3 separate regions of the Homo sapiens genome follow, and all the other regions are reported to be linked to region 1. Evidence: microRNA targets listed by miRTarBase, many of them from high-throughput screens and not tested one by one. Region 1 holds a microRNA gene; each other region holds the end of a gene's coding sequence. Distances are between the middles of the regions.

The links. Region 1 holds the annotated microRNA hsa-miR-3130-5p (UACCCAGUCUCCGGUGCAGCC, at 1,499-1,519, shown strand). A microRNA usually pairs through its seed, bases 2 to 8, with sites in the 3' UTR of a target mRNA and lowers its output. Matches are read on the target gene's strand: a 7mer-m8 pairs with bases 2 to 8, a 7mer-A1 pairs with bases 2 to 7 and ends in A, and an 8mer does both.
Region 2: the mRNA of POLQ is a reported target of hsa-miR-3130-5p. Seed matches in the 3' UTR shown: 7mer-A1 at 2,867-2,873.
Region 3: miRTarBase lists ABCA12 as a target of hsa-miR-3130-5p. Seed matches in the 3' UTR shown: 7mer-A1 at 1,920-1,926.

What each region holds. Positions count from the first base shown.
Region 1 is chr2:206,780,586-206,784,794 of GRCh38, reverse strand. MIR3130-1 (microRNA 3130-1) reads left to right here and starts at 1,487; the gene lies at 1,487-1,561. The region is part of intron 7 of FASTKD2 (FAST kinase domains 2); the gene reads right to left. MIR3130-2 (microRNA 3130-2) reads right to left here and starts at 1,561; the gene lies at 1,487-1,561.
Region 2 is chr3:121,429,097-121,433,305 of GRCh38, forward strand. It overlaps POLQ (DNA polymerase theta), which reads right to left. Exons shown (of 30, transcript NM_199420.4): 29 at 3,822-3,937; 30 at 2,335-3,321. The coding sequence ends at 3,208. Among named protein-coding and RNA genes, the nearest start is that of POLQ, 110 kb to the right of the region's middle. RefSeq lists an enhancer at 3,163-3,212.
Region 3 is chr2:214,929,594-214,933,802 of GRCh38, reverse strand. It overlaps ABCA12 (ATP binding cassette subfamily A member 12), which reads left to right. Exons shown (of 53, transcript NM_173076.3): 53 at 1,062-2,261. The coding sequence ends at 1,169. The region is part of intron 2 of SNHG31 (small nucleolar RNA host gene 31); the gene reads right to left. Among named protein-coding and RNA genes, the nearest start is that of SNORA70I, 85 kb to the right of the region's middle.

The DNA.
Region 1 (4,209 bases):
AACAAATAAACTTTGATGAGGAAGACAGGAGGACGAGCTTGTCATTGGAAAACGATGAGTCAAGAAAAATAGCTGACTTCCAGAATTACTGAACTTGAGACACTTCTGGGATGTGCAGTGACCATATGCAACCCACAGAGACTCAGGTCTGGAGTTAAGGAGCACACTAATGACCACAGATGCAAATGTGGGATTATCCATAAGGTGGTAAATACAGATCAAGAAGAGAAGAAACCAAAGGACCAAAACAACAGAGCTTAAACGTTACATATTTGTTCCTTGGGTTCAAAGCCCAGCAAGATACTCTGGATTTAACACCCTCTCCCCGATGGGCCATCATAAATGAAATAATGATTAATGTATAGCATGTGGGTATACAATAAGCCAGAATTCCTACCACTCTCCTATCTAACCATCTCTTCTAGTCAACTCTCTTCCCAAATACTTTGAGTTATTCTGCTTCCAAAACCTTTGCTACTCCAGATAAGTTGCCATCTTCCTTTCTCCTTCCTCCATAAAGCACTTACTTGGTGCCTACCATGTACTGCCTTCCTCTGGATATACAACAGAGTTGTTCTCATAAATGGTCTAGGAAGAGCAGGGAATACAAACTTCTTTTTTTATAGCCTTCAAAATACCAAATCCAGGCAATTGTACATTCATGGGCATTCAGGAAATGGTGACTAATTAATCTTGCTATATCTGCCATATTGCCCCTACTTCTCCTTTGGAGAAATGTTGAGGTGGGAGGCTTAGAATTAGGTAAGGGTTTCTCAATCTCAGCACTACTAACATCCGGGGCTGGATAATTCCTTATTGTGAGGGGCTATCTTCTGCATAGTAGGATGTTAGCGGCACCCCTGGCCTCTGTCCACTAGAGGCCAGTAGCACAGACCTCCCTCCTGTTGTGGCAACTAAAAACCATCTCCATACCTTGCCAAATGTCCCCTGGGAGGCAAAATCATCCCTGTTTGAAAACCACTAGGTTAAATGAAAGCAGAATAGACAGACAAAAAGACAACATTCATGATTCTCCTCCTGTACTAATTCTACTACTGCCATTTTATTAAATGTCCTCCCAGCCTTTGTTACCTTTGTTATCCCCCCTCTATTTTCAATGTAACAATTTTGTTGGAACAAGTTATCTCTCAGGTTGCCTGGAGTCACCTGAAAAACTCTTACCCGCCCAGTACTTACTCTCTTAATCCCTCTGGGGCTGTTTCTGGAGTTTTAATTACCACTTAGCTTGATATTATTTGTCTAGAAAGTACAAGGCATCAATGGGAGCCAGCCTCAGAAGAAAATGAAGCCAGGGGAGTAAAGGAAGATTGAATTTGGGAGATATTTTTCGACCTTTATTAAATGTCTACTCTTTGGCAGGTCCTGTACTAAGTTCAGAAAAACAGGCAGCTGGGTCGGACTCCGGAGAGCTTACCAACTGAGGAGCAGAGACAGACTTACTGACACAACAAATGATGTGACACAACTTGTCATGTCTTACCCAGTCTCCGGTGCAGCCTGTTGTCAAGGCTGCACCGGAGACTGGGTAAGACATGACAAGCACAGGGACTCTGACGGTGACAATTAGGGAAGACACAGGAAATGCAGTATGAGCTGAGTCTGTCCATTCAGTGGACAGTACAGTGGGAAGCTGCTTTTTAGTTGGCCTGACACCACTTAATTGATTAACTGCCCCTAAGGGATGGGCATTTGACTCAAACTCAGTCAATCAGATGTTCTCTTTCAGAAATCTAAATCTGGAGGGAAAACTAAAAGGAAAGCAAGCAGCTGGAGTCAAGTCATTTGATGGCAAACAGATGGCCTGTGCATCTTGCCACTGAGACCTTCACAACTGCCCTAGTTTGTTCCCCCAAGGCCTCTGTGACCTACACTCTAATTTTTTTCAAATCTAAAAATTACTATGTGCTGGGCATTGTCATAAGAACTTGACATAGATTAACTCATTTAATTCTAATAACAACCCAATGAGATTAGACATAGCTCATCTCCATTTTAATAAGTGAATAAACTGAGGCACAGATAAGTAATTTGCCAAAAGTCAAGCAGCTAACAAATGGCAATGCTGAAACTCAAACCTAAGCAAGCTAGCTCTAGAGTCCATGCTTTTAATCACTGTTTTAACAAATGACATTTTATATGCTTTTCTGATTTTTAATGAACCCTGACTGATCCAAAGAGTAAGAAAAGATGTTCTGGGTAGAAAGCAGAGGTATGAAAGAAGCTGGCACATTTGAGGAATTACTGTATTTAATAGTAGGAATGCATGGCTGTGGTTAAAATGAAAAGAATAGAAAGCAGTAGCTTGAGACCAAATGAATAGTTAAGGTCAAAACTGAACTAGAAGAAGGTCCAGTTCTCACAGCTTCTCAGAAACACTGATTTAGCAAGGACATATAGACAAAAATACCTTTATGAAAAGTCCAGAAACCAATTAAGATATTGTCGTACTCCAGACAAGAACAAAACCAAGAAGAGTTGCACTGAAACAGGCAAGAAGAACATTTTACCCAGGTCAGCCCCTCCCCAAAGCCGGCACAGCTCAGCACCAAGGAGATCACCTTGGCCTAGGACTTCTCCCTTGGAGGGAGAGAGTAGAGTGTGCAACCAACATCCGGCTTTTCACTGTGCTGCCCTAGGGGCTGGATTTCTGTCTAAACTCACGTGGAATACTAACAAAACCAGCAGGGTTCAGATGCCTGAGAGCAGTTAAGAACAAAGGAAAAGGGGTGGACAGCTTCCTGCACTCAGCACAGCTCTGAGAGATTGAGAGAAGGTACGCAACCCGAGGATTCAGCCTCAGGAGGAAATGAGAGGAGTGGAGCATGTCTTCAACATCCTAGCCTTTTGGTGAGCTGTCCAAGGAGCTGGTTTCTATCTCACCTCACAAGGAGAGCGGACGAAACCAGCATAGTTTGAATGCTCAGGAGCAGTTAAGTAGGAAAAAAAGGGGTCAGTGGCTTGCAGCAGACAGCACAACTCAAGGCTTCTCTACAGCGAAGGAGAGAAAGGAGAGGAGCATCTATGTCCCCGACTGTAGTACAGCAGTCAGACACCAGAGGGAGCAAGACATTCCCTGATACTGGAAAAAAAAAAAAAAAAAGAAATTAAAAAAAAGAAACCAGTAAATCCCTCTACTTAGAAATCCATAAACACATTCAGGCCAGGCATGGTGGCTCATGCCTGTAATCCCAGCACTTTGGGAGGCCAAGGTGGGTGGATCACCTGAGGTCAGGAGTTGTAGACCAGCCTGGCCAAAATGGTGAAACCCCGTCTCTACCAAAACTACAAAAATTAGCCAGGCGTGGTGGCAGGTGCCTGTAATCCCACCTACTTGGGAGGCTGAGACAGGAGAATCGCTTGAACCTGGGAGGCAGAGGTTGCAGTAAGCCGAGATCGTGCCACTGCACTCCAGCCTGGGCAACAAAGATCAAAACTCTGTCTCAAAAAAAAAAAAAAAAAAAAAAAAAAATCATAGAAAAAGTTTAAGAGGCCCCCAGAATCTCTGGCTAAGCTGATTAATAAGAGTCTTTCCCTGTCAAAGCCAGTCTGTAAAAACAGGGAGAGGAGACTGTTTCTTTAATTGTGCAGACACCAATGCAAAGCTACAAGGAAGAAAGAGCATCAGGGAAATGTAACACAATCAAAGTACCAAAATAAATGTCCAGTAATCAACATTAAAGAGATGAAGATCTATGAACTGCCCAACAAAGAACTAAAAATAATTGTCTTATAAGAACACAGAAAAGTAAATGAAATTAGGAAAATGATATATGAGCAAAATAAGAGTATCAACAAAGAATTGATAAACTATAGAAAGAACTAAACAGCAATTCTGGAGCTAAAGAATATAATAACTGAACTGAAAAATTGACTAGAGGGCCATACCAGCATATTTCAGCAAGCAAAAGAGAATCGGAGAATTTGAAGCAGGTCATGTGAAATTACCCAGTCCAAAAAGAAAAAAGAACAAAGAAAGAAGAAGAGTTAAGAAAGCCTAAGACACTTACAGTACACCAACAAGCAAACCAATGTGTGCATTATGGGTGTCTCGGGAGAAGAAAAAAAGGAGCTGAAAGCTTATTTAAGGAAATAGTGGCTGAAAACTTCACAAATCTAGAAAGAGTAATGGACATCCAGATTCATAAAGCTCAAAGGACCCCAAATAAGATTAATCCAAAGAAACATACA
Region 2 (4,209 bases), not on the chromosome of region 1:
GAGTATTTTGTGAGCATTTGAGATAGAGATCCAACTTGATATTTTTACCAATGGATACTCTTATCACTACATCGCGTTTATGAACAGCCCATCTTTCACCACTAATTTGAAATGACATTTTAATCATTTCTCATATAAGTCTGTTTCTTAAATTCTTTAGTCTGTTTTAATACTCTTACCTATTTCTATCCCCTATATATAATTTGAAACTATTATGTCTTTGTAATACATCCTAATATCTGATACAAATCTTTGTTATTTCTCAAGTTTGATAGGTACTGGTATTTTGTGTGTGTGTGTGTGTGTGTGTGAGAGACAGAGTTTTGCTCTTTTTGTCCAGGCTGGAGTGCAATGGCGCAATCTCGGCTCACTTCAACCTCCACCTCCTGGTTTCAAGTGATTCTCCTGCCTCAGCCTCCCAAGTAGCTGAGATTACAGGCACCCGCCACCACACCCGGCTAATTTTTTGTATTTTTAGTAGAGAGGGGGTTTTGCCATGTTGGCCAGGATAGTCTCGATCTCTTGACCTCGTGATGCACCTGCCTCGGCCTCCCAACGTGCTGGGATTACAGGCGTGAGCCACCACGCCCGGCCAGGTACTGGTTTTTCTTCAGGTGAGTTTTAAGATACTATCTATCTAAAAAATATAAAATCCTGATGAGACTTTGATGGAATTAAAGTTATAGATTAAAAATTAATGAAGTTTTTTGTTGGCATCGCTTCCTCTGGGACATCTTTATCCTTTTGTCACAACCATTTTCCTCATTTATGTAAATTGTGCCTTTACTGTTTCTCAGGTTGCCTATCTACTGTATCTCAAACAGCAGTAGTGTCAGCATTCCCAGGCAGGTAGTTCTTCTGTAATTCCATTTATGTTCAATTTGAATTTCACTTCCAGTGTTATTTTTTACTTCTCTGGTACACTTTGATCTTTATTAGCCAACTTCTACTTTTGATTATCCATTTTTGTATAATGTGGATTTACCACTGGGAGACAAGCAATCAACACAACTACATTTTGCCATCTGCAAGTAAAGTGAATAACAGATGTGAAGTAGCCAATCACAGACAGCCTTTGGAAGAAGTGATGTAACTGGTCCTCATCATGATGCATGTATGAATATCCTGTTACTGCTACCAATTCCACAAACTTACTAGCTCAAAACAATTCAAATAATTGTCTTGCAGTTCTAAAGGACAGAGGTCCAAAATGGTCTTAACTGGGCTAGAGTCAAGGTGTTGGCGGGGCTACATCCCTTCAAAAGGTTCTAGGAGAGAATCCATTTCCTTACCTTTTCCAATTTTTTGAGGGTTCCTGCATTCCTTGGCTCATGGCCCCTTCTTCCAACTTTAAAGCCAGCAGTGTAGCATCTTCAAATCTTTCTCTGTTTCTGTTGTCACATCTTCCCTGACTCTGACCATCTGCTTCCCTCTTATAAAGACCCTGGTGATTACAATGGAACCATTCAGATAATCCAGGATAATCCCCCACCTCAAGATCTCTAACTTAATCACATCAACAAGGTCCCTTTTGCCATGTAATATAATAGTTCACAGATTTTAGGAATTAGGATGTGAACTTTGGGGTGGGGGGCATTATTCTGCATAACACAATGTGCATTTCTTATTTACACAGTGGTTGTGGTTTGAAGAACTATCAGTGAAGTTTGAATTTCATGCAGTTACTCACAGTTAATATCCACTGGTAACTGAAATTTGAATTGTGTTGCAGGGGAGACTCATGTTATTAAGTAAACCATAGTAACTGGGATTTGTGCACATCTGAATCATGCAAAATGGGGATGGCCTGTTTCAGGTCCAGCTGACAGGTCAAACAGAATGAGAAAATGCATGTGACTACACATGCTGGGCCATGGCTGCAGAGAATGAGGCAGAAGGGACTTTTGCTTGCCCTCATGTTTGAAGAACACTCACAGGTAAACAGATTGAGCTTTCTCTTGTGCCAGATCTTTCAAGCCTACCAGAATACTGACAGCACTTCAGCTTCTGAGAAACATAGTACAGGTAAATATGGAAAAAGAAATAATGATATTCTTCCCTCTTACTGCTGCCATCTCTGCCTTTCTCACCCTGCCACCCCAAAAAAACTATGTCTAAGTCTCTTATGCATTAATACCCAACTACTGATAATGCATTACATTTTATAAAGCAACTATCTTTTTTCATTATTCTGATTAATAAACATAAAAGAGCTCTTCTGGTAACTGATTAAGAATATAATCAGTGTTTCCTATGAACAAGCTATGGAGTAACTAAATAAGGGACACTCTTAGACCAACTATAATTTTTAACAAAACAATTGTTGATATAAAGTTTCTCATAAATTCATTTTATTTCAACAGCAAAAAGATTAGCTCCATCCCTCTGATTGGGATCACAAAGTACAATCTTTTCAGCATGGGTTTTCTCACCATGCCACAAACAGAAAGAGGCACTAAGGGACTGATAAGGGGGTATTTTCTGTCTCTGGCAGTATTATATTGACCTGCAATAAAAACATCTGATCTTACAGAACAGGATACCTCTTGAAGAGGTATAGTTTATTTTATAATATGTAAGTATTCCAAATACATTCATTGTATGAATTAGGGAAGGAAAAGCAATAAGAAACATTTCATGAATATTCATTCCTACACTCCAACCATACCAAGTCTTACTACTTTATAGAATTCATAATTTATTAGCCAATACTATTTTAAAATACTATTTCCGTACTGTAAAATTGATATTAGAGGAAAAAAAGTCACACACGATGCCTACCACCACCAGGGTGAAACCAAATCTTTATCTGCCTATGGCTGCTGTCTGGGTCGATTGAGGCAGCAGCTTCATTTTCTTCATGGTTTACCCAGACAGATGTGGAACCAAAGTGCTAAGTGCATATTTCAAGCATCTGTTCTGAATATGTTTAAAGCCACAGTAAGTTACAAAAGGCAAATTCATAGATGCTCTTTGAAAGTGAATGTAACTATTATACTTGGTATTCTACTTCCCCCACGCCCCCAGAAGTTTTTGATGCTATAGACACTGATATATAGTTTGAAACTCTCACTATAAAATTACTAGGCTAAGTCTATCAAGACTTGAAAGTTTGTTTTGCTGAGGTAGGTGAAAGGGTAATCTCTGTTCTTTCCAGGTGACTGCATCTGCACAGGCTTCCCTGGGAGGACTTCATCAACAGCACAGTTACACATCAAAGTCCTTTAGCTCTCCCCAGCTGGCGCCTATTTTCACTTTCACTTTCAATTTCACAGACAGTTTTACAGCACTTTCCATTTCATTCTTGACAATCTGAGCTACCTAAGGAAAAAAAAAATGTAGTTAACAAACTGCCCAGTCAAAGAATGTTTCCCAAACCATCCCCTGAGAAAGTTATAAACCAGACTGGAGCTCTTCACCCAATGGTGCTTAAAATGCTAAATCAGAAAAAATAAAAAATAAAATAAATAAATGAATAAATAAAAAGACATCTCATACTCTTCTTCACTGATGAGCAGGAATTTCTGAAAGTTTTTGCTAGAATGCTTGGAGCTTAGAAACCCTAAGGGAAAGACTCCAAATTTTTGTTTAATTCCTCCAAGACAAAAACATCTTGCATTGGCAATTCTTCACTTATTAAGAACTAGTACAAAACGGAACACTCTTAGCTCCTTTTCTACCTGTAAGGACTCAATATTTATACAGCCATCCCAGGGCTAGGGTAGAGTTCCAAAATCCTCATGCACAGGAAACAAAGCTGTCGGCCTGACAATACAGTGTCTTGTCTTCCTATGGAATGGACACAAGCATTGCAAAAATACCTGAACAACATCTTCTTCTGCCACTTCATATAGGAGTTCATCATGGAGTTGAAGGATGAAGAAGCCTCCTCTGATTGGGCAGAACATCCCTTGCAGTTTTCTCTTTCGTGACAATCCTACTTCATGAAAAAGGAGCAAAACTGATCAGCATGTCGCTAAGTCATAGGAGAATGTTTTTAGAGATTCTGAGTAACTCTGAGGAATTTTAATGAGAAGATTAAAACACACAAGAATAAGAACTATCAGGAAAATAACTACTTGCTGGTCGCTACCTACCCTAAGTATCCGGTATAAACTCACAAACTTCCTCCTAGAAAGAAGGAGTCTCCCAAAGAAGTCAGTAAATGGGGTGTGAGGAACTCTGCTCCAAGCTCTAGTCCAACTTATT
Region 3 (4,209 bases), 8.1 Mb from region 1:
ATACATAACAAACAGCTGTTAACACTTTCCTTCCTTCTTCCATGGTAGGTTTCTTAAAGAACATTTCTATTGATTGGCTTCCTGGATTAGGGTTGGACAGGGTAATTAGAATTTGGTGTCAGACCTTTAGATCTGTTAAATTCAGGCAATTAAAGTGGTAAATGCAGAATCCTTTCCGTTCAACGTACATCATCTGTCTTAATTACATTTGCATTTAATAACTACAGACTTATTAGGTCATCCTTTATCACTTCTGTACTGTCTTAATTTTGCACAGCTCAACCAACATGACATATAGAAAGTTTGATTATATCTGTCATTGGACTAGGTCTGAAAGTAAGGCCTTTAGGGGTCAGTATATGGTGCTGCATTTGATGTACAACTCTTCTTGTGGGGCTTTAGGCATTTTAATGGGGGCTTTAGACAATCATGACTTTCCTGAAAATGAAGACTTAGTCTTCGACTTATGACCAACTACCAGCACCATGGCAAAATACAGACTCTCGATAGTTTTTGGATGAAACTATGACTAATAGATTTAATGACTTTAAACAAAGTGAAAAGATCTGCCTGTTAAGTAATTGGCTTACTGAACACAGTGTTAACATGGGCTTTCTATACAAATTTTATCTTAATGCATTAACTCTTGAAACTAGTGAAATTTCTCTCAACATTTCTACACAACCATTCAATAAGGGCACAGGGCTGGGCTCCTTGTTTATACCTGATAGAGATATTGATGTAGGTCATATGAATGCAGAAATGTGGCTACAGATAGTCAACTATGGCTTAAGATTGACATGATTATAAATAAAATCATAGTCATAAATATGGTCATAGATATAGGTGCTGTTTTCAAGCCCCAGTTAAATTTGATTTTCTGAAAGGACTCCTAGTGCAAGCATGTATAAAACTAGGATTTGGATTTTATAGGGGCCTGCATACACATATATACACGCTTGCACTAGGAGAGAGGAAGGGGAGAGAGAGAGAATGAATTAACTTTATTTTTTCCTTTGGCTTACCAGGCATTAATGGCTTTATTTTCCCTGAAAAATCAGGTTTTCATCAACTTTGCCAAAGACCAGAAGTCCTATGAAACTGCTGATACCAGCAGCCAAGGTTCCACTATAAGTGTTGACTCACAAGATGACCAGATGGAGTCTTAACACTTCCAGCAAACTCAATCTCAGCGTGTGACCAATGGCTTCATTTTGAAGAAAAGCCACAGAAGATACACTTCCGCAAGATATCTTCATTTTAAAGTAAAGTAATATACTGTATGGAAAGTTACAACTGTGTTAGACTAACAAGTAATTATAAAAGGAAATTTTTCCTTCTAAGGTCAGTGAGTGTTGTTGCTACTGAAATGAATTCCTGTATACTCAACACTGTGAGCATGCTAATGTATATGCTGGTGATTCTTATGCAAAGGTGAAGCCACCTCAAGATGAATATCTTAATTTATTACTTTCAATAAAAAGACAGTTTAAAAGGCATGGATTTTGGTAGTTGAAATATAAGAGTGGAGAAGAAAAGTCAGATGGTTTGTGGCAGGTGCCACCGGGCAAGCAGACAACATAATTTATTTCCAGAAAACAACAGAATGAACATCATCATGAATACATGAATCGGCTGTGATGTGTGAACTGCTAAGGGCCAAATGAACGTTTGCAGAGCAGTGGGCACAATGTTTACAATGTATGTGTATGTCACTTTCGGTACCTGTGAATGCATGGGGACGTGCTGAACCCGAAAAAAAGTGCCTTTCCATAAGGACTGCAATAGAGAGGGCAATTTACCCTGGTGGTACACGGAACCTAGATTCACTCCTGCCATGCCTTGCCAATAGTAAGCTGCAGGGTGGAACAAGAAATCACTTGCTCTGGGGGGAAGGGAGGGGGGAATGGGTGTGTCAGCTGGGTAGATACAAACCCTGAAAAGAGAATCCATGTGCTACTGGCAGGCAACATTTTTTAAAGCTCTTTCAGAAACCCTCATATTTGGGGTTTCTTTTCAGGAAACATTCCTGTGGAGGGAAAACGAATATGAAGATAATTTTCAGCTAATTATCTGGGTGACCCAGAATCGTGTATATGGCTATAGGATAGACTTCTTAATAATGGCAAGTGACGTGGCCCTGGGGAAAGGTGCTTTATGTACCGTGTGTGCGTGTATGTGTGTGTATCTATACAAGTTTGTCAGCTTTGGCATGACTGTTTGTCTCGAAAACCAATAAACTCAAAGTTTAGAAAAACTCATTCATGCTGTCATTTCATTTGTTAGGGAAGAGACAGGAACCTAAAAATGGGAGTCATGTGGCCTGCAAAGTTTCACTTGATCTGGCCCCTGTTGGCCTCTCCACCCTCATCCCCATCTTTCTCTCTCTTTGGCCCTTTGGGATCTAGCCATGCTGGCCCCTTCCCACTTTTTCCAGTGCTCCACAGTCTTCCCCATCTCCAAACCTTTGCACATGCTGTTCTCCTGCTGGGAATGCTCTTCACCCCACACTTTTTACCTGGCTAACAGGCTCCAGAAATGTCATACTTTCTTAGAGAACCCAGACTGCCCGGCTTTCTCATTTTAAATCTGGTCTGCTGTTCTAATACTATATGCTTTGTTGTTCCTCCCAACCTCCTACTTTTCTGTCAGAGCATGCATCATCATTTGTAATATATCCAGACTGACTGACTTAACTACAAATATATATATATATATGTACCTTAACAGATGGTAACACAATTTCTTTCAGGATGGAAAATGTCTTTGCTGAATATAATATGTAGACACGCCTTTTGGAGTAGATAGAAGGTATAACTCTGAGAGCGTGGGTGTCTCTAGGGTCCCAAGTGACAAAATAGATAGCCGAGCTCCATGAAAGAATAAAAGGAATTTGTTTGCTGTTCATTGTCTTTGTTGTGGTTGGCTGGTTGTCTGCTTGTTTCTGAGCAATGGTAGGAAAGGAAGCAAAAGAAAAGGACACAAGGGACATGGAGAAAGGTGGAACCAGTGAGATGGCAGAAGGCTAAGTACTGAAACAGACGGAAGCCCAGTGAGAAAGAGAAGTGGTTGAATGGACGTTTAAAACTATGAGTATTCAAATACTTTTTGCATATTCACTCACTGTGCAGCCATGCTGTGGATGGTCCCTGTTACCACTGAATCTTCGTTGAAGTCAGACACGCTTACAAATGCTCTGTGTGACTGAGTGTCTTGTGGAGACTGGAATGAAGATATGTTAATTCCTTTTTTGAAAGAGGTGCAGTACAGTGACAGCTTCATCCCAGAAGCTGTCAGACCATGAGACAGGGAGATGCCAGGACATGTGTGGAGCAGAGCTTCTGACCATAGGACATGGATCAGGGACTCCAGCCAATCTCATCTACCTCTCAATGGGCAGGGAAGCCCCAGCTGGGCTCTGGACCGTGATAGTAGCACCATTATTTGAGTGATTAGTATTTCTCTGTCTCACTAGGCTTGAAACTCCATGAGGACAGAGATCTATTTTGATCTTCCTGGCTCTCCAACTGGTACCTATATACACAATAAATATTCGTGGCACTCAATAAGTAAGTATTTGTTGGTTAAATGAGTAAATAAATGAAGGAGAAACAAGAGAGGCTGGCATGGTTGATATGAAAACCAAGCAACCTGATTTTGTTTAAATTTCTGAAATACAGTGAGGTTTCCCATGAGGTAGTTTATTCTGAGGGAAGAAAAGAGAAAGATGATACATAGTCCCATATTACAGATATTACAATGAATCTACTGCGATGGAAGGATTTGGGTATCTTCTTTAGAATGAGAATGCTATGTTTTGTTTTTGCACATTTTTGGACATTTATTTTTCTTCCTCTTTTTTTCTGTTAGTATGTACTATTTAAGAGTATCATGGCACATTTTTATATGTAATTAAGGAACATCTATGAACAAATATTTGAACCCATATCCCTTTGGGTTTCTCTGCAGTAGAGGAAATGTTTAGAGAATTCCCAGTTCCCAGAACTTCCACTCTGGATAATACCTACAGAATGTGCTTGCTTTTTTGTTTTTGTTTTGTTGTTCTTGTTGTTGTTGTTCTTTTTTTTTTTTTTTAGACAAGGTCTTGCTCTGTTACCCAGGCTGGAGTGCAGTGGAGAGATCACAGCTCACTGCAGCCTCGATCTCCCAGGCTCGAGTGATCCTCCCACCTCATCCCCCTGAGTAGCT